Linked DNA regions of Homo sapiens. The protein of the gene in region 1 purifies or fractionates together with the protein of each later gene. This does not show direct contact. Each region holds a gene or a part of one and is shown in the gene's direction. Other genes may lie near its edges.

Region 1 (3,500 bases):
TTAGTAGAGGTAGGGTTTCTCCATGTTGGTCAGGCTGGTCTCGAACTCCCAACCTCAGGTGATCTGCCCTCCTCGGCCTCCCAAAGTGCTAGGATTACAAGCATGAGCCACCATGCCCGGCCTTTTTTTTTTTTTGAGATGGAGTTTCGGTCTTGTTGCCCAGGTTAGAGTGCAATGGCGCGACGTAGGCTCACTGCAACCTCCGCCTCCTGGGTTCAAATGATTCTCCTGCCTCAGCCTCCTGAGTATCTGGGATTACAGGTGCCCACCACCATACCCAACTAATTTTTGTATTTTTAGTAGAGACGGAGTTTCACCATGTTGGCCAGGCTGGTGTCGAACTCCTGACCTCAGGTGATCCACTGGCCTTGGCCTCCCAAAGTGCTGGAGCCACTGCGCCTAGGTTTTTTTTTTTTTTTAAGACGGATTTTTCCTCTTGTTGCCCAGGCTGGAGTGCAATGGCGCAATCTCTGCTCACTGCAACCTCTGCCTCCCAGGTTCAAGCAATTCTCCTGTCTCAGCCTCCAAAGTAGCTGGGATTACAGGCGCCTGCCACCATGCCTGGCTAATTTTTTTATTTTTTGTATTTTTAGTAGAGACGGGGTTTCCCTGTATTGGCCAGGCTGGTTTCGAACTCTTGACCTCAGGTGGATCAAAGTGCCTCCCAAAGTGCTGGGATTACAGGTGTGAGCCACCGTGCCTGGCCCCCAGCGAATTTCTTTTAAGGTTTTTGTAGAGATGAGGTCTCACTATATTGCACAGGTTGGTTTTTGTTTTTTGTTTTTTGTTTTCAGAGTCTCCCTCTGTCACCCAGGCTGGAGTGGAATGGCACGATCTCGGCTCACTGCAACCTCTGCCTCCCAGGTTCAAGTGATTCTTGTGCCTCAGCCTTTTCAGCAGCTGGAATTAGAGGTGTGTACCACCATGCTTGGCTAATTTTTTTTATTTTCAGTAGAGATGGGGTCTCACCATGTTGGCCAGGCTAGTTTCGAACTCCTGGCATCAAGTGATCCACCGACCTCAGCCTCCCAAAGTGCTGGGATTACAGGCATGAGCCACCGTGCCTGACCTTTAATGCATTATTCAGTTCTGTCCTTAAACTTGTCCTGTGAGGTAGGTGGTATTAACCCTATTTTACTTATGAAAGAAACTGAGGCCTAAAATTTAAAAGAAATTCTACCCAGGTCACACACCTTATAAGAAGCACAGGACACAGGATTTAAACCCAGATCTACCTGGTCTCATATGCCCTGCTTTTTTTTTTTTTTTTTTTTTTTTTGAGACGGAGTCTCGCTCTGTTGTCCTGGGTGGAGTACAGTGACACGATCTCAGCTCACTGCAACCTGTACCTCCCTAGTTCAAGCGATTTTCCTGCCTCAGCCTCCTGAGTAGCTGGGATTACAGATGTGCACCACCACACCCAGCTAATTTTTTTGTATTTTTAGTAGAGATGGGTTTCACCATGTTGGCCAGGCTGGTCTTGAACTCCTGACCTCCAGCGACCCATCTGCCTCGGCCTGCTGAAGTGCTGCGATTTTTTTTTTGAGATGGTCACCGTGCCCAGCCGAGGCCCTACTTTTTAACCACTGTGCTATGTATAACTGTACTACCCTGGTATAGTATACACTATGCTTTATTATAGCTATACTCTAGTATATGTATAGTCTCTTCTACTCTGTGATACTGTTCTATGCTATGCCTCACCCCTAGTGTCTGTTCACCAAAATGCCAGGCACTCAGTCAATCTTGTTACCCACTGTATACTAGCACCTCTATAGAGTATAATACGTGTTAGGGCTCAGTATGGTGCCTTGCCCTGTAATTCCAGCACTTTGGGAGGTTGAGGTGAGAGGATTGCTTGAGGCCAAGAGTTTACGACCAGCTTGAGGAACATCATGAGACCCCATCTCTACAAAAAATAAAGATATAAAAAATTACAGCCAGGTGTGGAGGCTCACGCCTGTAATCCCAGCACTTTGGGAGGCTGAGGTGGGCGGATCACAAGATCAAGACATTGAGACCATCCTGGCCAACACGGTGAAACCCTGTCTCTACTAAAAATACAAAAATTAGCTGGGCGTGGTGGCACACGCCTGTAGTCCCAGCTACTCGGGAGGCTGAGGCAAGAAAATCACTTGAACCCGGGAGGCGGACCTTGCAGTGAGCCGAGATCGTGCCATGGCACTCCAGCCTGGGCGACAGAGTGAGACTCTGTCTCAAAAAAAAAAAAAAAAATTAGCCAGATATGGTGGTGCATGCCGGTAGTCCCAGTTACTTGGGAGGCTGAGGCGGGAGGATTGCTTGAGCCCAGGAGTTTGAGGCTGTGGTGAGCTACGATTGTGCCACTGCACTCCAGCATGGGTAACAGAGCAAGACCCTATCTCTTTAAAAATATATATTTACAGCCTGAGCAACATGGTAAAACCCCGTCTCTAGTAAAAATACAAAAATTAGCCAGGCGTGGTGGCAGGCACTTTTAATCCCAGCTACTCAGGAGGCTGAGGCAGGAGAATCCCTTGAACCTGGGAGATGGAGGTTGCAGTAAGTTGAGATTGCACCACTGCACTCCAGCCCGGGCGACACAGCGAGATTCCGTCTCAAAAAAAAAAAAAAAAAAAAAAAAAAAAAAATATATATATATATATATATATATATATGTGTGTGTGCATAAATAAATTAGCTAAGAGAAGGAAATTCTTTCTGTAAATGCCTTCTTTTTGGCCCTAGTCAACATTAACTTATTCATTCTACAGCCACTTACATTGGAACTGTGACCTGAAACCAAAGGGATAGGCATAGGAACCTGGGCCAGTGGACTGTGAGGGATAGAGGGAAAGGTGGGCAGGTGGGCAGGTGGGCCTAGTGACCCCACAGGTGTGAGAAGGCTGGGTCATTGATGGGCCACAGGAGCACCCAGAAGGCTCAGGCCCAGGCTCGGAAGCAGCTTGTCCTGTCCTTGGCACCCACAGACAGGCGATATTCAGCGGGTTCCAGGTCTGTAGGAGGCCAGGGAGGATCTACCCTCACTCACTCTCCCCTCTACCTTCGCCTCTAGACCCCAGCTTGGTTGCTTTCTTGAGATCTCACAGCCACACGCAAGAGCAAACAGGAGAGACAGCCTCTGAGGAGCAGAGGCCAGGAGGACCCTCTGCTAATGTCACCAAGGAGGAACCCCTCATGTCAGCTTTTGCCAGTGAGCCCAGGAAGAGAGACAAGCTGGAGCCAGAAGCCCCAGGTTTGCAGGAGGCGGGGGTCATATTTTGGTGGATAAAAGTAGGGGAAATTGTCCCTTTTCCTAGGCCTGGCAAATGAGAGAAGAGAGAAGCTTCTGTGCTTTTGGACATCTAACATTAATCCTCATTATTGGCTTCAAGTCAGTCTTCATTGCTGATGCATGTCTTCTTCCTGCACATGCTTCCTGTTTTCTTGTCCTGTTACTGCCCCTTCTCCGCCTTCCCTTTTAAGAGGCAGCAATGCGTGATGGCTGAATCCCACTCCAC
Region 2 (3,500 bases), on another chromosome or scaffold:
GATACTGATTCTTCCTATCCATGAGCATGGAATGTTTTTCCATTTGTTTGTGTCCTCTCTTATTTCCTTGAGCAGTGGTTTGTAGTTCTCCTTGAAGAGATCCTTCACATCCCTTGTAAACTGGATTCCTAGGTATTTTGTTCTCTTTGTAGCAATTGTGAATGGGAGTTCACTCATGATTTGGCTCTTTATTATTGGTGTATAGGAATGCTTGTGATTTTTGCACATTGATTTTGTATCCTGAGACTTTGCTGAAGTTGCTTATCAGCTTAAGGAGATTTTGGGCTGAGACGATGAGGTTTTCTAAATATACAATCATGTCATCTGCAAAAAGAGACAATTTGACCTCCTCTCTTCCTATTTGAATACCATTTTTTTTTTTCTCTTGCCTGATTGTCCTAGCCAGAACTTCCAATACTATGTTGAATAGGAGTGGTGAGAGAGGGCATCCTTGTCTTGTGCCAGTTTTCAAAGAGAATGCTTCCAGCTTTTGCCCATTCAGTATGATATTGGCTGTGGGTTTGTTATAAATAGCTTTTATTATTTTGAGATACGTTCCATCAATACCTAGTTTATTGAGGGTTTTTAGCAAGAAGGGCTGTTGAATTTTTTCGAAGGCCTTTTCTGCATCTATTGAGATAATCATGTGGTTTTTGTCATTGGTTCTGTTTACGTGATGGATTACGTTTATTGATTTGCATATGTTGCACCAGCCTTTCATCCCAGGGATGAAGCTGACTTGATCATAGTCGATAAGCTTTTTGATGTGCTGCTGGATTCTGTTTGCCAGTATTTTATTGAGAATGTTGGTATCAATGTTCATCAGGGATATTGGTCTGAAATTTTCTTTTCTTGTGTTGTCTCTGCCAGGGTTTGGTATCAGGTTGATGTTGGCCCCACAAAATGAGTTAGGGAGGAGTCCCTCTTTTTCTGTTGTTTGGGATAGTTTCAGAACGAATGGTACCAGCTCCTCTTTGTACCTCCGGTAGAATTCGGCTGTGAATCCATCTGGTCCTGGACTTTTTTTGGTTGCTAGGCTATTAATTGCTGCCTCCATTTCTGAACTTGTTATTGGTCTATTCAGGGATTCAACGTCTTCCTGGTTTAGTCTTGGGAGGGTGTGTGTGTCCAGGAATTTATCCATTTCTTCTAGATTTTCTAGTTTGTTTGCATAGAAGTGTTTATAGTATTCTCTGATGGTGGTTTGTATTTCTGTGGGATCAGTGGTGATATCCCCTTTATCATTTTTTATTGTGTCTATTTGATTCTTCTGTCTTTTCTTATTAGTCTGGCTAATGGTCTATCTATTTTATTGATCTTTTCAAAAAACCTGAACCTGCTCCTGGATTCATTGATTTTTTGAAGGGTTTTTTGTGTCACTATCTCCTTCAGTTCTGCTCTGATTTTAGTTATTTCTTGTCTTCTGCTAGCTTTTGAATTTGTTTGCTCTTGCTTTTCCAGTTTTTCTAATTGTGATGTTAGGGTGTTGATTTTAGATCTTTCCCACTTTCTCCTGTGGGCATTTAGTGCTATAAATTTCCCTCTAAACACTGGTTTAGCTGTGTCCCAGAGATTCTGGAATGCTGTGTCTTTATTCTCATTGGTTTCAAAGAACTTATTTATTTCTGCCTTTATTTCGTTATTTACCCAGTAGTCACTCAGGAGCAAGTTGTTCAGTTTCCATATAGTTGTGCAGTTTTGAGTGAGTTTCTTAATCCTGAGTTCTAATTTGATTGCACTGTGGTCTGAGAGACCGTTTGTTATTATTTCTATTCTTTTGCATTTGCTGAGGAGTGTTTTACTTCCAATTATGTGGTCAATTTTAGAATAAGTGCGATGTGGTGCTGAGAAGAACGTGTATTCTGTTGATTTGGGGTGGAGAGTTCTGTAGATGTCTTTTAGGTCCACTTGGTCCAGAGCTTAGTTCAAATCCTGAATATCCTTGTTAATTTTCTGTATCGTTGATCTGTGTAATATTGACAGTGGGGTGTTAAAGTCTCCCACTATTACTGTGTGGGAGTCTAAGTCTCTTTGTAGGTTTCTAAGAACTTGCTTTATGAATCTGGGTGCTCCTGTATTGGGTGCATATATATTTAGGATAGCTAGCTCTTCTTGTTGCATTGATCCCTTTACCATTATGTAATGCCCTTCTTTGTCTTTTTGATCTTTGTTGGATTGAAAACACGGTTCTTAAACCCCAGTATGCAGAACAATCACTAGAATAGCTGTTAGTAAAGATTACTGTGCCCAATCTTCAGAAATTCTTCTCATTCAATACATCAATAGTAAGGCCCAGGAATGGAAATATCCTCATTTTCCCATTTAAATATTGTGGATAAAATTCCTTGTTTAGTCTTATTTGAAAGTTATTTTTCTAACTCCTGAAATCACTTAAGTCTGTGCTTCTCAAACCTGGGTTTAAGCCCCCTCTAGGGTTTATGATATGTGCCAGGGGATGGGTGAAGTCATAAAATCGGCATGGCATATCTTCCTGGAGTGTCAGTTTTATACAAAGATTTAAAAGTAAGAGAAAATTAACATTTAAAATGTAACATGGAGCTGGGTGTGGTGGCTCATGACTGTAATCCCAGCACTTTCGGAGGCTGAGGTGAGTGGATCATGAGGTCAGGAGTTCGAGACCAGCCTGGCCAATATGGTGAAACCCCGTCTCTACTAAAAATACAAAAATTAGCTGAGCGTGGTGGTGCATGGCTGTAATCCCAGCTATTTGGGAGGCTGAAGCAGAAGAATCGCTTGAACCTGGGAGGCGGAGGTTGCAGTGAGCCGAGATCCCGCCACTGCACTCTGGCCTAGGCAACAGAGCGAGACTCCATCTCAAAAAAAATAATAAAATAAAATGTAACATGAAACAGAATGCAAAATTCACATGTATTTTTAAAATAAAGAAGGAACTACAAAGAAATTTTTCGGTTAGGTCTATACCATGTACTTCCAGGTCTCTACATTTCCTTTCCTTTACTGTCATAGGGCACCTTTGGTAGAATACCTTAATTAGGACAACTTACATTTTAACCCCTGAAAAATGCTGGTATAAACAGCTATTGGTATAGAAAGTGCAAATACAAAGTGCTTTTATAAAGATGATGATGTGAATGATTAACAGTTCTTTAAGCATGCTCTTTTCTTATTTAGAAAAGTATTTCTATGTTGCAGATGAACTGTCTCATTGTGTTGAGCCTGAGCCATCTCAGGTGCCAGGTGGCAGTTCTAGAGACCGTCAGCAAGGTAAGCCCCCTCCTCTCCCGGCTCTAAAAGCTAAGACATCTTCACGTTCTGGTCCATATGCCACTGAGATAAAGAAGTCAACTGATGATTCCATATTTAAAGTTCTAGACTGGTTTAACCGAAGTTCTTATTCAGATGACAATAAGTCATTCCTCCAACATCCCCGAGGAATAGAGTCCAAAGAAAAAACAGACTCAAAATCACAGGTTGCTGTTGACTTGGTGACAGATGACACTACTTTAAGAGAAAATGGC
Region 3 (3,500 bases), on another chromosome or scaffold:
ATTTCTGTAACACTTACTCTCTAGTAAGGACTTAGGGATAAAGATAATAAATAAAGGGCTAATAAGCAAGAGACATAATTCAGAACTTTGATGATAGAATAGGAAATTGGGCAAATGAAAAGCCTCCTAAAAGAAAAGGGCTAGGACTATAATTTAGAAAAGGAGATACTAAAGAAAGATATATGGAAAAGTTTATAAACAAAGGTATTCACTAGATATTTTTTACAGTAGTAAAAATTTGGAAATTATAAAAAGACATTAGTTAATTATATCCATAAAATGAAATACTGTGCAGCCATTAAAAATCAAGCTTAAAAGGAATATCTGAAACCATGGGAAAGAGCTTACATTATAATAAATGAAAAGATACTTTTCCCAAAAAATCCATAGAATATGATCCCAAGTTTTGATTTTTCTTTTAGAAAAGCATGTATGTATAGATAGGTATGTTTTAAAAAAAAATACATCAAAATGTTGAGTGTTTAGGTAGTGGAATTACAGGTGTTTTCATTATTACTTTTCTGCATTTTAAGTTTTTTTTTTCCTGTAGTGAATGTATTTATTAATACCTTATTACTAGTAAAATATTAAGGATTCTTTTTTTAAAGAGAGAGCTCCAATATTGAAGCTCAGAAAGATGTACAGGATAAGGATTATTTATATAATGTGATATACTGAACATGTTATTTGATAGCTTTTTCACTGAAAAATGTGTACTGAGGAGCTTTCCACATTGTGTTCTTGGATATATCTCATTCTTTTCAGCCATTACTAATGTTCCATAAAATGGGTATATCATAATTTACCCATTCTGTTAATGGACATCTAGGGTATTCCCAATTTTTTTCTATTACAAACAATGCTGCAGTGATCTTTTAAGGTATACTTTAATGCACATTGCCTATATTTTTCCATACTAAATAGAGGAGGATGTTTTGTTCTATAGATAAAGAAGATTGAGCTAAAGTTCCCTTTCTTCATAAGGCTCTGCTTTTTAGGAGTTTTGCCTTTTGCCCCAGAAGTAGCTTTGAGAGTTCTTCATGTCTACCGTGGCTACCCCATAGGAGATATGTATGATTTCTCTCATGCATCAAAGCCAGTGTTTTGGCAATTTTTGCAGCTTTCATGTCTTCTTAAAGTATCAGTTGGGCTTTTTTTTTTTTTTTAAGCATTTGGTTTTATAACGTAGGTTTCACAAGAATAAAGACTTTAAAGATTTTTCTCTAGAAAAAGCCACATTTTGTTTTATGAGTAGCTGTTAATGACTAGTCCCTACTTTAATGAAGCCATACAAAGTGTACCTCTTGCAGATTTAGGATCTCTCCTGTTCTTTCAGGTTATTCATGTGGCCCCACTAGGTCCCGGGTATGTGATAAGTAATCAATGCAGAAGTTGTTAACTTAGGTTAGGGCCAAACAACAGGCATCATTAAGCGAGAAGCAGATGCAGACCATCAGGCAGGGGGATTCCGTGTTGCCTTATCCACTTCAGATCCCGTCGTCGCCTCACTGGCTCAGGACATCTTCAAGGAGCTGTCCCAGATTGAAGCCTGTCAGGGCCCAATGCAAATGAGGCTGATTCCCACTCTGGTCAGCATAATGCAGGCCCCAGCAGACAAGATTCCTGCAGGGCTTTGTGCGGTAAGTGGCCGTGTGTGTGTGTGTGTGTGTGTGAGAGAGATCTACAAGTGCCACCCACAGATGCATCTAGCTGACAAGAACCTAATAGCGTTAGAGATTCATGGGGTGATTTTGCTGAGCTCTTTTGCCTGCAAGGACAGTGGGTGATTCTCTGAAGCTTTAAGAAAATGGCTTGGCTTGGCGCGGTGGCTCATGCCTATAATTGCAGCACTTTGGGAGGCCGAGGTGGGTGGATCACAAGGTCAGGAGTTCGAGACCAGCCTGGCCAATGTGGTGAAACCCTATCTCTACTAAAAATACAAAAATTAGCCGGGCATGGTGGCAGGCATCTGCAGTACCAGCTACTCAAGAGGCTGAGGCAGGAGAATCACTTGAACCCAGGAGGCAGAGGTTGCAGTGAGTGGAGATCGTGCCACTGCACTCCAGCCTGGGTGACAGAGCGAGACTGCCTCAAAAAGAAAGAAAGAAAGAAAATGGCTCTTCTTGTTCCAGAGGTACCCTCAGTGAATTGAACAGAGTGCCACCTTTACACAGTGCCACTAAGTATGTCACCTGGTTATCCAATCCACTACCATGTACTACTGCCCACCCCTATGGCTAATCAATTAGTAAGCTATTATGAGAAGGCTGAGAGTACTACCCATTTAATTATTCCTTTTATTTTGGAAACTTGCCTTTCATTAATAAGCTTTCTCTGGGTTGCTATGTAATACCCATCCAGTAAGGATCTTGGTTGTTGGGCAACCCCCACCCCAGAGGCAATTCTGACTTTTCTTTTTCTTCTCTCTTTCAGACAGCCATTGATATCCTGACAACAGTAGTACGAAATACAAAGCCTCCCCTTTCCCAGCTTCTCATCTGCCAAGCTTTCCCTGCTGTGGCACAGTGTACCCTTCACACAGATGACAATGCCACCATGCAGGTATCTGAGACATGGAGAGTAGAAGAGGGAAGATAGCTCCCCAGCCATGGGCTTATACTATGCTGAGAAATCTGACATGGTTTTATGCTTTTGAAATACGGAATTCTCAACTCCATATTTACTTAGCAGATTCAGGAAGGGTTCAGTCTGCAAAAGCCAAGCATTTCTGGTGCTTTGGAGCATGTTACAGTTTTTAAAAATATGGATACCAAGCACCCTGCCCATCTGTATTGGGTATTGCTACTGTGAAAGAGGTTACAGACATCTAGACTTGGGGCCATAAGAAAGTCTTTCTGCATATTTCTTCTAGTAATAAAGTCAGCAGAGTGATGGGCCTCTAGAGAGGGGAGACATGCCTGAATATTTTTTCTCTTTTTGTTTCTTGGGTGAATTGGTTACCTTTTCAGGTGTCTGCTACTGTGATTGATTAGAAAGGTTATAGGAACTTGCCAGTGAATATTGATCAGCTTGGAAATCCCTAGGCAACTAGTGGTTTGTGTAAGACCTATATAAAGACCTACAGTATCCCCAGTTATTCCAAGATTGTAAGCATATTTTTTTAGTACCAGAGGTAGACCTTTATGATTAAAATTCATTTTGCTTGGCCATTGTCCCTTGTGATTAAAAAAATATATATACACATTTGTGAGATAGCTGATTAGGTAAAGGGGGAATTATGTAATGCACGTCTATGTCTGTAACAGTAAATGTCTTAACTCCAGTGGTATGAGCCCACCACAAACATTATAGACTCACCGCTTTTATGAGGCATAGGCCTCTGGGAACATTTGTTTATACAGACTGAGGGCCTTCTGGCATCTGTCCCTCGATTACTAATCTTGCTTGCCACCCCTGTCTCCCCAGAATGGCGGAGAGTGCTTGCGGGCCTATGTGTCAGTGACCCTGGAACAAGTAGCCCAGTGGCATGATGAGCAGGG
Region 4 (3,932 bases), on another chromosome or scaffold:
CAGGAATTATTCAATTACAACATCTCAACCACTTTAATAGTATTCTCATTTTGCAGACAAGAGAATTAAGGAACAGATAACTTAGTTGCCCATAATGGCAGAATTAATGGAATGGAGTGCAATCCAGGCCTAATTTCAGTCAGAGATCATAGTTCCTTTTTTTCTATCAAAAAAATAAATAAAATAAAAAAATTGGCCTTCATAGTTGACAGCATTTGTTAAAGCACTACATGTTTTAAAAATCTATTAGCTCAACTCCTGATTAATGTATTTATTCAATTAGTAAACTATTTTCTGATTAGAATTTTCTTGTAATTTTAAATTAAATAATAAAATAAGATACAGCTTCATAGAATCATACACTGGTCAGGTGAGAAGTCTTCAGAGCGTCTAATTTAGACTTCCATTCTATCACTATGGAAACACCCAGAATGGTGCCGCAATTTTGCCCTCCATAACATAGCTAGTCAATGGCTGGCAGGTTTCAGGATTCTGTATAGAATTCTTTTCAGTGCATCATACTTAAATGATAGATATTTACGTGGGTCATTTGTTGGCAATGCATCATAAAAATATCGCCCACATACTTGAAAAAGAATACAAGCCATCATCACCATTATTATACATAATTATTCAATTATTTTCAGAGATGATGGTTAGATGGGCTGGGCGTGGCTGACGAATCTGCATTAGAAAAATCTCTTCAAAAAAAGATTCTATTAAAAAAAAAGTCGTCTGCAATTTCTACCTCTCATCCTTCCAAGTATTACTTATTATTCCTTAATAGAACTGTTGAGAAGTTTTACATTGGGCACAAGGAGCGGTTCCCAGGATCGTGCCTTCCTAATAAAAGCCCAGTCTCGCGCCTGTCCCGGGCGCGGCGCTGAGGAAGGGAGGTGGGAAGAGCAGAGCGGCTAGAGGTAGGGCGGGCGGGTGGGTCTGCAGGCTGGAGGGCCGTTGGCCTGGAGCATGAAGGGGCGAGCCCACTAACGGCTTGCTTCCTATTGGACGGCGCGGCCCGTTTTGCGCATGTGTCTCCGGGTTCAAACCCAGGCACAGGCCAAGCGTTCTTGTTTGTTGAGGGCGGAGCCAATGGCGGGGGAGTGTTGTTAGCGCGCGCCTTCCGGATCGCAGCTCTCGCGGCAGTCGCCTGAGACTTAAGGTTATTGCTTGGCCGCGGCCTGGTATTCCGGCGATTCGTTTCTTGCTCGGCTTCCTGGAGCTGTGGTCCGTGTGGGCTTCCACCTCAGACAGTTGCGCTGGCTCAGCGGGGCCGGAACATGGCTGCGTCCGGTCTGGTAAGTGCAGGCCCCCCGCTCCAGGCGAGTGGTTGAGCGGCTGGCTGGGGCACGGGCGCCCGAGGCTGGGGAGAAGGAAATGCTAGGCTGAGGCTGTGATCTCTGAGGGATTTCAGTGGGAAAGCCGCAGGAATTTTTGAAATCAAGTGTGATCGTGTGTCGATAACCAGAGTTAATTTACTGTACTTTTATTATTTCTTAAGTTTTCATGTCGTCATTTCGTCTGTGCCTACGTCTTACTCTTGAGAGGTGCTTGTGATTTCTGCTGGGTTTTTTTTTGTTTTTGTTTTTGAGACGGGGTCTTGCTCTGTCCCCCAGGCTGGAGTGCAGTGGCGCGATCTTGGCTTCTGCTTTTTAGTCTAGCTCCAGTTCCTAGGCCTCCAAATAACTTTTCTCCCCATGGTAGAAGTATTGAAACGCCTTAAAAGTGTGTCTTTGCGTCACACTTGGTAGTTGGGAGAAACAGATTATGTAACAAGTACGTCTCGAAATAATTTGACGTTTTCAGTTCTTCTGTCAAAATGGTGGCCTTTTATGCAGTTCTTGAGGCTGATTTATGGAGCATATGTTATTGACAAACTCTTCTGAAAGACAGCTATCAGTTAAAAGGTACAAGCTGTGAATGACTAATGGGGGCGACAACTCATTTTGTTTACATATTTCTGGACTTCTTTGGTGTTCACTATTCTATATTTCATACTTTGGTTATGGTTACTATATAAAAATCCGTATCATTTCTTTTCTAATTTATCTCCCCTTCTAAGAAAATCTTCAGCTTCGATGATCTCCCATTATGTGACGTTATACATATAAACATAAAGAGTTGTATGAAAGAATAATATAATCTATACTTTTTACTATGAGCACATATATTGTTTACATTATATATAATCAGAAGAAAGCAATAAAGCCATTCTCACTGTGGGGAGAGAAGCGGAATAAAGCTTACCAGATGCCTGCAGTTCAGTTTTTAAATGCCTGTCATAACCTATGTTATGTCATAACATAACCTCAAAATTGTTTTGAGCCCTTAGGAGATGTTTGGTGTATAGCATGCCCATACTGGATGAAGTTACTTTGAAAATAAATTTTACTCGACTCTATCTTAAAGAAACCAAATTGATGATTTACTTTTCTTTCAGGATCATCTCAAAAATGGCTACAGAAGAAGATTTTGTCGACCTTCCAGGTGATTTACGTACTTAAGCTTTTAAGATTATTTTTATTCTCATCGTTAATAGATTTTTAAATGAAGAAAGGAAAAACTATCACCTCTGACTAATATAATGATTTCTGTGCCCACTGATTAAGGGTAGTCATCTTATACTAACGGGAATGTTAATGCAAGCAGTGCAATGACTTTGTGGCTGTGAAAAAAGAAATTCACCTGATAAAATAGTGGAACCAGGAAGAGGGAGTCTCAGTTCTGACTAAGTGACTGCCATGGGAAAAGCATTTTGTAGAATGAATCAAATGGTAAAATTAGAAAGATGTAGCTTATTCAGTGGGGCAAAAAGAAAAATAGTACATGCTGTCGTGCATTTGTTGAGTGCTTGTTTGGGTTGTTTTGGTTCTTCTTTTAGTTGTAAAACCTGTAAAAAGTAAATTTTCTAGTTAAATATTTACTAGTAATAGGATGAAAAGCATGTTTTTAAAAGTGAAGATGTTATTATGAATAACGTCATGTTTATTGAGCTGTGATTTTAGTAGGTCCAATGGGGCACAGAAGTATGTTCTTTTGTTTACAAGAAGCTTAGATTTCTGTTGGGAAAATGTATATGTACATTTGTGAAACAATTTAATGGACAAAAATTATTACTTGCAATACTGAAGTAATGACTTGTGTATCATAGAGAGTAGGCCTATATATAATTAGGCATTAACTTGCAGTATAGACAGCCATGTGAGAAATTAGGGATTTGTGTGTTGTTGATATTAAGAAAAGCTTTAAAGTTGTAGTGTAACTTTGGTGGACCTTGAACAGGTATTTAAAGACTAAGATAAAGTATATTCCAGACATAGAAAGTAACTTAACGAAGGAACCAAAGTAGGAATACATATATTTGTCAGTAGCAGAGAGACCTGATTTAAGAAGGTTGAATATGTTGGGTAGAAGTGGAAAACAAGACCATATGAGTTGGATTGAGCCATAAAATGGATATGTTAGGCTTTAGGCATCTATTATAGGCTTGAATAAGCTCTCCTAAATCTTCTGTGGAATAAGGGCTATCTGATATAAACACACACACACATTTAAAAAAGCAAAGATGTTTGATGTTTACAAAGTAGCTTAAGGAGGGTGTTGTAGTAATCTACACATGGTGGAGGTGCTTTTATGCTAAGGTAATAATGACAAAGGGGAAGAAAAGACGAATTTGATAAATTTTGAAAAAGCTGTTGCCTAATGTGACCTGCGTTCTAATAGTGACTCTGCATTATCACCTTGGCAAATCTGATCTTTTTGGATCTCATCCTTGAAACAGGTAATAGCAGGAGTGTATTTATAGCTGTGCAATATGTGCACCTGTAGGTGGTATTTTGGGGTGATGTCAAGGCCAGAATTTATAATAGTCACCTATATATATTCTGGTAGAAAACCGGCCACTAATACTACTTAGGTTTACAAACTGAGGT
Region 5 (2,211 bases), on another chromosome or scaffold:
CATGTGCTGAACTGGGGAACTTGTGCTTTATCCTGGTGGGTGCTGGGGCATGCAAGCTTCTGAGCAAAGCTGGGTGAGGATCAGATTCCTGCTTCAGAATGGTGGCTCTGGAGGAGAGACCCGGGCTGGGGCAAGGGTGGAGGCAGGAAACCCTATTAGGAGGGGCAGGAGGGCCCAGAGAGGGCAGAATGAGGGCCTGCCGGAGGAGGAGGAGGAGTTGGCTTTGGGAGCCATTTCAAAAGAATCCAGGACTTGGCTGTGGGTGGAGGAGAGAGGGAGGAGTCACAAGACCGCCCTAAGGTGAGCAGTGTGAATGGAGGCAGTTTGGGGCAGGGGTAGGTAGGATGCTGTGGTTCCGGATAGGTGAGTTTTAAGAGCCTACAGACACCCAGGTAGAAATGGATTCTCAATGGGAAGAAGAGTCCCGGAGCTCAAGTGAGTGTGGTGTTGGACAGGGAGGCCTGGATAGCAGCGCTGCTTGGGAATGGTATTTTCTAGGGAACACGAACAGAGAAGGCAAAGGGGCCAAAAACAGTCCTGGGAACACTGAGTCTCAGTGGGGAAGGCAGGGGAAGGCAGGGGCGGGGCGGGGGGCGGGCAAGAAGAACCTCCCAAGAGGCAGAGGAGAGGCCAGAAGGGCGGATGAAAACCAGCTTCCAGAAGGCCATGGGCGGCAGCATGGGCCCTCCTGGGAAAGTGTGAAAGGCCAAGGCCCCAAAACACCACAGGGTGTAGCAGTGAGGGCTGGTTCAGGTGAGAACAGCGGCATGAAGTTGCCCAACTTGGGGTTGGAAATCACAGTTTGGGAGCGGCTCCAATCCAAACCATGACACCATACGGGATCTTTCAGCCACTTGCAGGGGCGGAGCTGGCGGCGGGATTGACCTGGGATTGGGGATTGGCGGGGTGGGGAGCTGGTGGGGTCCGGCGGAAAGGGGAGGACGTGAACTTGGGCGGGTTGCCCTGGAGAGGCCTGTAGATGCTGGGCAGGTGGGAAGGCAGGTTTCCAGGTGGCAGCGGGTGGAGAGGAGGTGGGGGACTTGTGGTCAGAGAGCGCCCCTGGCGGGGATTTGGGGATCAGCATGCAGGAAGCTCTGGTGATGACACCCCAGGGGCGTGTGTGAAACGGATTCAGGCTGCCAAGCGTTATTCACTGTGGAGAGATTGTCATCACCAGAGCCGTGTCTAAAGGATTTAGCCAGGGCTGGATACGGAAAACAGAATGGAAGGGGGCTTTGGGAGACCAGCCCACCTCACAAGAAAGAGCTGAGAGCCTAGATTTGGGCCAGCGGGGGTAGTCTCTGGACGGAGGGCGGCACGGGGCTGGAGGAGGAGCGTTTTATGATGCGGCCGTGGGTGCTGGCCTTGGCTGGGGCTTGTGGCGACTGGGTGCCGTGACGTGGGGGTGGACCGGGTAGAGCGGGGTCGGCAGGGGGCCGAGTCCGGGCGCCCCCCGCATCCTGACCTGTCTCCCACACAGGGTTCGTGGGCCCCCAAGAAGGAGCCGTACGCCCGGGAGATGCTGGCGATCTCCTTCATCTCGGCCGTCAACCGCAAGCGCAAGAAGCGGCGGGAGGCGCGGGGGCTGGGCAGCAGCACCGACGACGACTCGGAGCAGGAGGCGCACAAGCCTGGGGCGGGGGCCACAGCGCCGGGGACTCAGGAGCGGCCGCAGGGGCCGCTGCCTGGCGCCGTCGCCCCCGAGGCCCCCGGACGCCTCAGTCCCCCGGCGGCGCCGGAGGAGCGGCCGGCCGCGGACACGCGCTCCATTGTGTCGGGCTACTCCACCCTGTCCACCATGGACCGCAGCGTGTGCTCGGGCGCTAGCGGTCGGCGGGCAGGGGCGGGGGATGAGGCGGACGACGAGCGTAGCGAGCTGAGCCACGTGGAGACGGACACTGAGGGCGCGGCGGGCGCGGGGCCTGGGGGGCGCCTGACACGCCGGCCGTCCTTCAGCTCGCACCACCTCATGCCCTGCGACACTCTGGCGCGCCGCCGCCTGGCCCGGGGCCGCCCAGACGGCGAGGGCGCGGGCCGGGGCGGTCCCCGCGCCCCGGAGCCGCCCGGCTCGGCGTCGTCCAGCAGCCAGGAGTCGCTGCGGCCCCCGGCGGCGGCGCTGGCCTCCCGGCCCTCGCGCATGGAGGCGCTGCGTCTAAGGCTCCGCGGCACGGCGGACGACATGCTCGCCGTGCGCCTGCGGCGGCCGCTGTC
Region 6 (4,287 bases), on another chromosome or scaffold:
GAACTTCCTTTAATATTTTTTCATAAGAAAGATCGGCTGGTGACAAATTCCCTCAGATTTTCAGATTTCCTTTTTTTTTTTTTTTGTCTGAAGTCATTACTTTGCCTCCATTTAGGTAGGCCTTTTTTGTGGTTGTTATAGGATTCTAGGTTGACAATCTTTTAGCACGTTATAGATGCATGGTTCTGGATTTGGTACAGGTTTGCACAGACTCTCTGTAAACATGTTAAAGAAAAATGGAGAAGCTGCAACATGAGAATACGAAGATTTACTGAAATGAAAAGGTGGTCATTGAAAGAAAGTGGGTTATGAAACAGCATGAACATTATGACCTCATTTTAACAAACGTGCGTAACATACACATAAGTGTAATATGTATGTACATGTATCCATACACACATTGTATATGTATAATGAAATCCGTTTTATTTTCTTACTTTCGCTTTCACTGGAGCCTGTATTAATCAGTGCGGCATTAACCGCTGCTCCCACCCTCGGGCCACTCCGCATCAGTGAGAAGTGGGCCTCCGACAGAGCCGCCCGGGCCTAGGGTTCCGCAAGGCTGGCAGCACGGAGCCCGGCCAAGGGCGAGCGCTCCGCCAAGGATGGGGAGTTGGCCAAAGACAGGAGGATTACAAAATCCAAACACTCGGACAGAATCCTGGCGGGTGCTAAAGACTGCAGCGGGGCAGAAAAGCAGAACGCTGGCAGGTTTTTTTCATATCACTAGCAGCGTGACGGTTACCGGGGTTGACCAAGCACAGCGCACCGGCCGCCGTTAAATCCCACTCTGGCTCGGGGTCTGCGGAGCCTGCCTCAGCCGCAGGCTCCATAAACCCAGCCAGGAACCAAGCGCGGCCCAATCTGCACATCTGCCGCATTTTGGCAAGGGGTCCGGGGTCTGGAACAGAAGCGGAGGCCCAAATTCTTGCCTCGGTCTCCAAGACCCACTTTCTGGGGCGATGGAGAGAGAAGCCCAGCTTGGGATCTGGGCAAGTCGAGCGGGTTGGAAGGGGAAAGCTCTGGCGAGAGCTCAGCTGGACTCTCCGAGGGGTATCTGGAAGGTGGGACCGCAGGCACCGGGAGAGAAGAGGGTGCGAGGAAGGAAACGGCCACCCCGTTGGGAGCGCAGGAGCCGACAGCTGCTTGGGCCTGGGAAGTTCTTCTCTTTCTTCATAATCTTTATTCTTTGTTTTGCTGTAATCCAGATAGATGAATAGATAGATGATAGGGAGGGAGAGATGGATGGAGGGAGCGAGGAGACGGAGGAAGGGTGGGAAGAAGGGGGAGGAAAAAATCCCCAAATTCCCGGAAACTAAGAACTACGTGGCAACAGTCAGAAGGGTGGGAGCTTCTAGGCAATTTAACGCGGCAGAGTTCGCGGGCTTAGCAGACCCGCCCATTGGCTCTTGCATCTCCTGCGTGGGATGTGCGTGGGATGGCGCCAACCCGCTAGTATATAAGGACTCGACCTGGGCGCCTCCAGGGAAACGCTAAGGGGGCTTCGGAAGCGCTGGAGCTTGAGAGGTCAGAGAGGGTCCTTGCCCCCAGCCTGGGACTCCGGAGTTGCGTTTCTACCCGTGCTTCAGGGTCTAGCCCAGCCGAATCCGCGTCGGGCTGTAACTCGAGTGCCAGGTTCGAGAAGGGAGCAGCACCCTTCCCACCCCACCCCAGCCAGGGTGTGGGGTGTGGGGAGGGGCTGGAGGGGTGCGGAGGGGCTGGGGGTGGAGTGGAGTGGGGGTATCTGTGCTTTTCTCCCCTGTCCGGGGGCCCAGCTAGTTTGCTCAGCAGGTTCCCTAAAAAGCGGACTATGGAGGACTGGCGGGCGGGGCGGGGGTGGGTAATGGGGGTAGAAGGCATTAGGGGCGGGGCGGGCCTGACCTGTGCACCTGCTCCCGCTGGAAGTTGGAAGAGCCCCTGGCCAGCCAGCCGCGGTTTCTGCGGGGCGCGGAGCAGGAACCGAAGCCTAGAAGGCCACTGAGTGCACCTTGGTGGCTCCCAGGGCTGCAGATCTCAGGTTTCAGAGTTATTGGTATTTTAAACTTGAGAAACTAGTTCTACAGCTGTCTATGTGACCGACCAACCACTCTAAACTATTTTCCTTAATATAGAAACTAAAAGGCAGAATTAGAATTGCCATTGCCCTGCGGGGAGATTTATAATCTAGAGGGGGGAGAAATGAGAAAAATGTCTCCCTCTGGACAAGATCTGTAGAATACACGTGCTACCCCAGAAGGACAAAGAGCTCTAAGTTTTAGTTTTCCAAGAGGGCACATCTGTCGCAGCCCATTTCCCTTTCTTTTCTTTTTTTTTAAATTAATTTTTAATTTCTGTGGGTACATAGTAGATGTATATGTTTATGGGTTACATGAGATATTTTAAGACAGGCATGTAATGTTTAATAATCACATCACGGTAAATGGGGGTATCCATCGCCTCAAGCATTTATCCTTTGTGTTACCAACAATCCAATTATGCTCATTAGTTTTTATTTTATTTTATTTTATTTTTGTAGGTACATAGTGGATGTGTATATTTATGGGGTACATGAGATGTTTTGATACAGACATGCAATGTGAAATAAGCACACCATGGAGAATGGGGTATTCATCCCCTCAAGCATTTACCCTTTGAGTTGCAAACAATCCAGTTACATTCTTTAAGTTATTTAAAAACGTACAATTGTTATCATTGACTATAATAACTGTTGTGTTATCAAATAGTAGGTCTTATTCATTCTAATTTTTTTGTACCCATTAACTCTCCCCACCTCACCCCTTCCCTCCTACCACCCTTCCTCAGGTAGTCATCCTTCTGCTCTTAGAATACAATTGTTTTGATTTTTAGATGCCACAAATAAGTGAGAACATGTGATGTTTGTCTTTCTCTGCCTGGCTTATTTCATTTAACGTAATGATTTCAAGTTCCATTCGTGTTGTTGCAAGTGATTGGATCTCATTCTTTTCTATGGCTGAATAGTACTCCATTGTGTATATGCACATCATTTTCTTTATCCATTCATCTGCTGATGGACGCTTAGAGTGCTTCCAAATCTTAGCTATTTTAAACAGTGCTGCAGGAAACATAGGAGTGCAGATGTCTCTTGGATATACTGATTTCCTTTCTTTTGGGTCAATACTTAGGAGTAGAATTGCTGAATTGTGTGGTAGCTTTATTTTTAGTTTTCTGAGGAACTTCCAAACTGTTCTCCATAATAGTTGTACTAATTTACATTCCCACCAACACTGTTTGAGGGTTCCCTTTTCTTCACATCCTTGCCAGCGTTTGTTATTGCCCGTCTTTTGGATAAAAGCCATTTTAACTTGGATGAGATGGTATCTCATTGTAGTTTGGATTTGCATTTTTCTGATGATCAGTGATGTTGAGCACCTTTTCACATGCCTATTTGCCATTTGTCTTCTTTTGAGAAATGACTATTCAAATCTTTTGCCCATTTTTCAATAGGATTATTAGATTTTTTTCCCTATAGAGTTGTTGGAGCTCCTGATATGTTCTGGTTATTACTCCCTTGTTGGATGGTTAATTTGCAAATATTTCCTCCCATTTTGTGGGTTGTCTTTTCACTTTGTTGATTGCGTTCTTTGCTGTGCAGAAGCTTTTTAACTTGATGTGATCCCATTTGTCCATTTTTGCTTTAGTTGCCTGTGCTTGTGGGGTATTGCTCAATGAATTTTTGCTCAGATCAATGTCCTGGAGATCTTACCCAATGTTTACTTGTAGTAGTTTCACAGTGTGAAGTCTTAGATTTGAGTCTTTAACCCATTTTCGTTTGATTTTTATATGTGACAAGAGTTAGGAGTCTAGTTTCATTGTTCTGCGGATAGATATCCAGTTTTCCCAGTGCCATTTATTGAAGAGAATGTCTTTTCCCTAGTGTATGTTCTTGGCATCTTTGTGAAAAATGAGTTCACTTTAGGTGTGTGTATTTGTGTCTGGGTTCTCTATTCTGTTCCATTGGTCTATGTGTCTGTTTTTAATGTCAGTATCATGCTATTTTGGTTCCTGTAGCTCTGTAGTATAATTTGAGGTCAGGTAATGTGATTCCTCCAGTTTTGTTCTTTTTGCTTCCGATAACTTTGGCTATTATAGGTCTTTTGTGGTTCTATATAAATTTTAGGATTGTTTTTTCTATTTCTGTGAAGAATGTCATTGATATTTTAATAGAGATTGCAGTGAATCTGTAGATTGCTTTGGGAAGTATGGATATTTTAACAATATTGATTCTTCCAATCCATGAACATGGGTATATTTCCCCTTTCCATATTT
Region 7 (3,500 bases), on another chromosome or scaffold:
CCCAATGCAGTCAAAAATCCACATATAACTTTTGCCTCCCTAAAACCTTAACTGCTAACAGCCTACTGTTGACCAGAAGCCTTACCAGTAATATAGTCAACACATATTTTGTATATGTTATTTGTGTTGTATACTGTATTATTACAATAAAGTAAGCTGAAAACATGTGTTTACTGTTCATAAAGTGGAAATGAATCCTCATAAAGGGCTTCATCCTTGTCTTCACATGGAGTAGGCTGAGGAGGAAGAAAAAGGAGAGGGGTTGGTCTTGCTGTCCCGGGTGGCCCAGGCAGAAGAAAATCTGCATATAAACGGACCCATACATTTCAAACCCATGTTGTTCAAGGGTCAACTGTATATCCAGTTTTGTGTTTGAATCTATTGGTTTGTCTTAATTTTCCTGTGTCACCAAAGTTCTCCAGAAACATTTAATAGTTATGTGATATTCTTTTGCAGGAATGTACCATCCTTGCCTAACTACTTGCTTATTGCTGCTTCCTTTTTATTTCTTTGAGGGGATAGTTTTAAAGAATCAGACAGTAAATATCAGTCTTTGTCCCTCATTTCTTGATTGTTTCTTCAGGATGGATTCCTGGAAGAACAATTACTGAATCAAAGTATATGAAAAAATGTAAGGCTCTTGATGCATACTGCCAAAGTGGGTTTTAGAAATGTACAAATGTCCATTTATCCAACTGAACATTAATCAACTATAAAAAAAAATAAGAAAGCTCTGTATGTACTGATTTGGAAAGATCTCCAAAATTTGTCAAGGTGCACAACCGTGTGTATAGTGTGCCACTTTATATGTAAAAAGGGGAGAAATAAGAATTATGTTAGTATATACTTGCCTGGATATATGATCTGGGATGTAGAAACTAATGAAAATGGTTACCTGTGGGAGTGGGATGATGGGATTGATGGCAGGGGCAGGGTGGGATTGATGGCAGGGACAGGGTAGGAATGAAGCTTTTCAATATCATTTTATTTTATTTTATTTTATTTTATTTATTTATTTATGAGACAGAACCTCACTCTGTCGCCCAGGCTGGAGTGCAGTGGCACGATCTCAGCTCACTGCAGCCTCTGCCTCCCAGGTTCAAGCGATTCTCGTGCCTCAGCCTCCTGAGTAGCTGGGATTACAGGCATGTGCCACCACGCCTGGCTAATTTTTGTATTTTTAATAGAGACGGGGTTTCACCATGTTGGCCAGGCTGGTCTCGAACTCCTGACCTCAAGTGATCCATCCACCTCAGCCTCCCAAAGTGCTGGGATTACAGGCATGAGCCACCACACCTGGCCTGCCTTTCTTTTCTAATGTAAGCCTTTAGCTGTTAATTTCCTTCTCAGCACCAATATTTGATTTTTGACCTATGTGAACGAATTAACTTTTCAGAATACTGAATTTAAAAAACACACCAAGAAATCAAGAGAAGAAGAAATGTCAACATGTAATCTTAGGCTTCAGATACTCCCTTTCCTGTGTATACTGTGACCAAAGGTCACTGCACTGCAGGCTTAACTTGTACAATCTCCTTAGTTCCTGTTGCCAACCTTCCCCTCGGATATTCTTGGATTTCATATTTTGAGCCTTCCCTTGCTCCCTGGGCTCACCTACACCTGGACCTTAGCCTGTGATTCTGTTTCTCCACACCTCTCAGGTGTGGCTACCTTGGGTTTCATCTCTGACACCTCCCATGGAGTGAACTTTAGAGTGACTGTGTCCCAAAAACACCAAAAGGGAGGTGGGTGTGGCCCAAGCACTCATGACTCAGGATGGACCCAGGGACCAAGGGATGGCCCCAAACAGAGTGATCAGTGGGAGCTGGAGTAGAGTAGAACACAGTTCTGAGAAGCCCATGCTCATGGAAGGAGTCTTTTGTGAAGTGCAGATGATTTGTAGGGGAGGAACCTGCTCCCTCACCTTTCCAGAGACCCTGGTCTGGGAAGGAGGAAGCCATAAGATTATTTAGCTGGGTCACATGGATTCTCAGCTCCCCGCCTAGCCACCAAAATAAATTCCACCAGATAGATGAAAAGAGTTAAAGGGAAAAAAGAGAATTAAACCATGAGAAACAAGGAAATGCTGAGGAATTTTTTATCAGCCCTCTGGATACAGAAATGAAGTGAAAAGTGGTAGAAAAAAAATCACAAAGGAAGAAAACCTTGAGATCTACATAAAAATGTAAATCTCGGTACTCAAAAAGAGGGCAAACGAAAGAGAGACAACTAACAGGGATCGCTCTGGGTTGCTGTTGAGCTAGCTGTGGGCCAGCAGCTGCTCAGCACAGAGTTCTTTCCTCACAAGTGGAGAGGCTGGTTTGTCCCCACTGATCTCCCTGAGGTCCTTGACTTTTTTGAGGGGTGTGGCCCAAACCCACAACTTAGTTCCTAATACCTTTTGATACTCTTTTATTAGATAGATGTTTTACAAATATTTTCTCTCAGTCTGTGCCTTACAAAGTAGCAGAGGTGCTGAAATAGAGGTTTTTCAAAAAAGTTTTGCTTTTTAAGTCCAGTTGATCAACTTTTTTCTTTTCTGGTCCATGCTTATGTCCTATCTAAGAAATCTTTGCCTAACTGAAGGCCACAAAGAACTCCTCCTCTGTCTAAAGCAGGGGTTTCCAGCCGGGGTGCAGTGGCTCACGCCCGTAATCCCAGCACTTTGGAAGGCCGAGGCGGGTGGATCACCTGAGGTCAGGAGTTTGAGACCAGCCTGGCCAACATGGCGAAACCCCATCTGCACTAAAATTACAAAAATTAGCCGGGCGTGGTGGTACGTGCTTGTAATCCCAGCTACTGGGGAGGCTGAGGCATGAGAATTGCTTGAACCCAGGAGGTGAAGGTTTCAGTGAGCCGAGACCACCACACCACTGAACTCCAGCCTGGGTGGCAGAGTAAGACTCTGTCTCAAGAAAATAGTAAGAAGTAAATAAAATATAGCAAGGGTTTCCAACCTTTTGGCTTCCCTGGGCCACCTTGGAAGAAGAATTGTCTTGGGCCATACGTAACGATAGCTGATGAGCTAAAAAAAAAAAAAAAATTACAAAAAATATCATAGGCTGGGTGCAGTGGCTCATGCCTGTAATCCCAGCACTTTGGAGGCCAAGGCGGGTGGATCACCTGAGGTCAGGAGTTCGAGACCAGCCTGGCCAACATGGTGAAACCCCGTATCTACTAAAAACACAAAAAATTAGCTGGGCGTAGTGGCTCACTCTAGTCCCAGCTACTGTGGAGGCTGAGGCAGGAGAATCGCTTGAACCCGGGAGGCGGGGGTTGCAGCAAGCCGAGATGGTACCATTGCACTTCAGCCTGGGCAACAATAGTGAAACTCCATCTCAAAAAAAAAAAAAGTCTCATAATGTTTTAAGAAAGTTTGCTAATTTGTGTTGAGTTGCATTCAAAGCCATCTTGGGCAGTGGGTTGGGCAAGCATGGTCTAAAGGGTGTATAGTTTTAGGTTTTACATTTAGGTCTATGATCCATTTTAAGTTTGTGTTT

What was found.
Region 2: the proteins of RPAP1 (region 1) and SYTL2 purify together in Homo sapiens (affinity purification with mass spectrometry, with the first as the bait; one large-scale study listed by BioGRID). This does not show direct contact.
Region 3: the proteins of RPAP1 (region 1) and IPO9 purify together in Homo sapiens (affinity purification with mass spectrometry, with the first as the bait; one large-scale study listed by BioGRID). This does not show direct contact.
Region 4: the proteins of RPAP1 (region 1) and CENPC purify together in Homo sapiens (affinity purification with mass spectrometry, with the first as the bait; one large-scale study listed by BioGRID). This does not show direct contact.
Region 5: the proteins of RPAP1 (region 1) and ARHGAP23 purify together in Homo sapiens (affinity purification with mass spectrometry, with the first as the bait; one large-scale study listed by BioGRID). This does not show direct contact.
Region 6: the proteins of RPAP1 (region 1) and SLFN11 purify together in Homo sapiens (affinity purification with mass spectrometry, with the first as the bait; one large-scale study listed by BioGRID). This does not show direct contact.
Region 7: the proteins of RPAP1 (region 1) and PHF8 purify together in Homo sapiens (affinity purification with mass spectrometry, with the first as the bait; one large-scale study listed by BioGRID). This does not show direct contact.

What each region holds. Positions count from the first base shown.
Region 1 is NC_000015.10:41,530,758-41,534,257, reverse strand, and holds part of RPAP1 (RNA polymerase II-associated protein 1), read left to right. Parts: intron 1-3,055; coding exon 3,056-3,235; intron 3,236-3,500. UniProt on the Homo sapiens protein: Forms an interface between the RNA polymerase II enzyme and chaperone/scaffolding protein, suggesting that it is required to connect RNA polymerase II to regulators of protein complex formation.
Region 2 is NC_000011.10:85,727,642-85,731,141, reverse strand, and holds part of SYTL2 (synaptotagmin-like protein 2), read left to right. Parts: intron 1-3,174; coding exon 3,175-3,500.
Region 3 is NC_000001.11:201,867,157-201,870,656, forward strand, and holds part of IPO9 (importin-9), read left to right. Parts: intron 1-1,491; coding exon 1,492-1,640; intron 1,641-2,433; coding exon 2,434-2,562; intron 2,563-3,426; coding exon 3,427-3,500. UniProt on the Homo sapiens protein: Nuclear transport receptor that mediates nuclear import of proteins, such as histones, proteasome and actin. Serves as receptor for nuclear localization signals (NLS) in cargo substrates.
Region 4 is NC_000004.12:67,542,704-67,546,635, reverse strand, and holds the start of CENPC (centromere protein C), read left to right. Parts: upstream 1-1,132; 5' UTR 1,133-1,280; coding exon 1,281-1,298; intron 1,299-2,440; coding exon 2,441-2,487; intron 2,488-3,932. UniProt on the Homo sapiens protein: Component of the CENPA-NAC (nucleosome-associated) complex, a complex that plays a central role in assembly of kinetochore proteins, mitotic progression and chromosome segregation.
Region 5 is NC_000017.11:38,508,464-38,510,674, forward strand, and holds part of ARHGAP23 (rho GTPase-activating protein 23), read left to right. Parts: intron 1-1,480; coding exon 1,481-2,211.
Region 6 is NC_000017.11:35,370,822-35,375,108, reverse strand, and holds the start of SLFN11 (schlafen family member 11), read left to right. Parts: upstream 1-1,487; 5' UTR 1,488-1,635; intron 1,636-1,881; exon of another isoform or gene 1,882-2,012; intron 2,013-4,287. UniProt on the Homo sapiens protein: Inhibitor of DNA replication that promotes cell death in response to DNA damage. Acts as a guardian of the genome by killing cells with defective replication.
Region 7 is NC_000023.11:53,995,974-53,999,473, reverse strand, and holds part of PHF8 (histone lysine demethylase PHF8), read left to right. Parts: intron 1-3,500. UniProt on the Homo sapiens protein: Histone lysine demethylase with selectivity for the di- and monomethyl states that plays a key role cell cycle progression, rDNA transcription and brain development.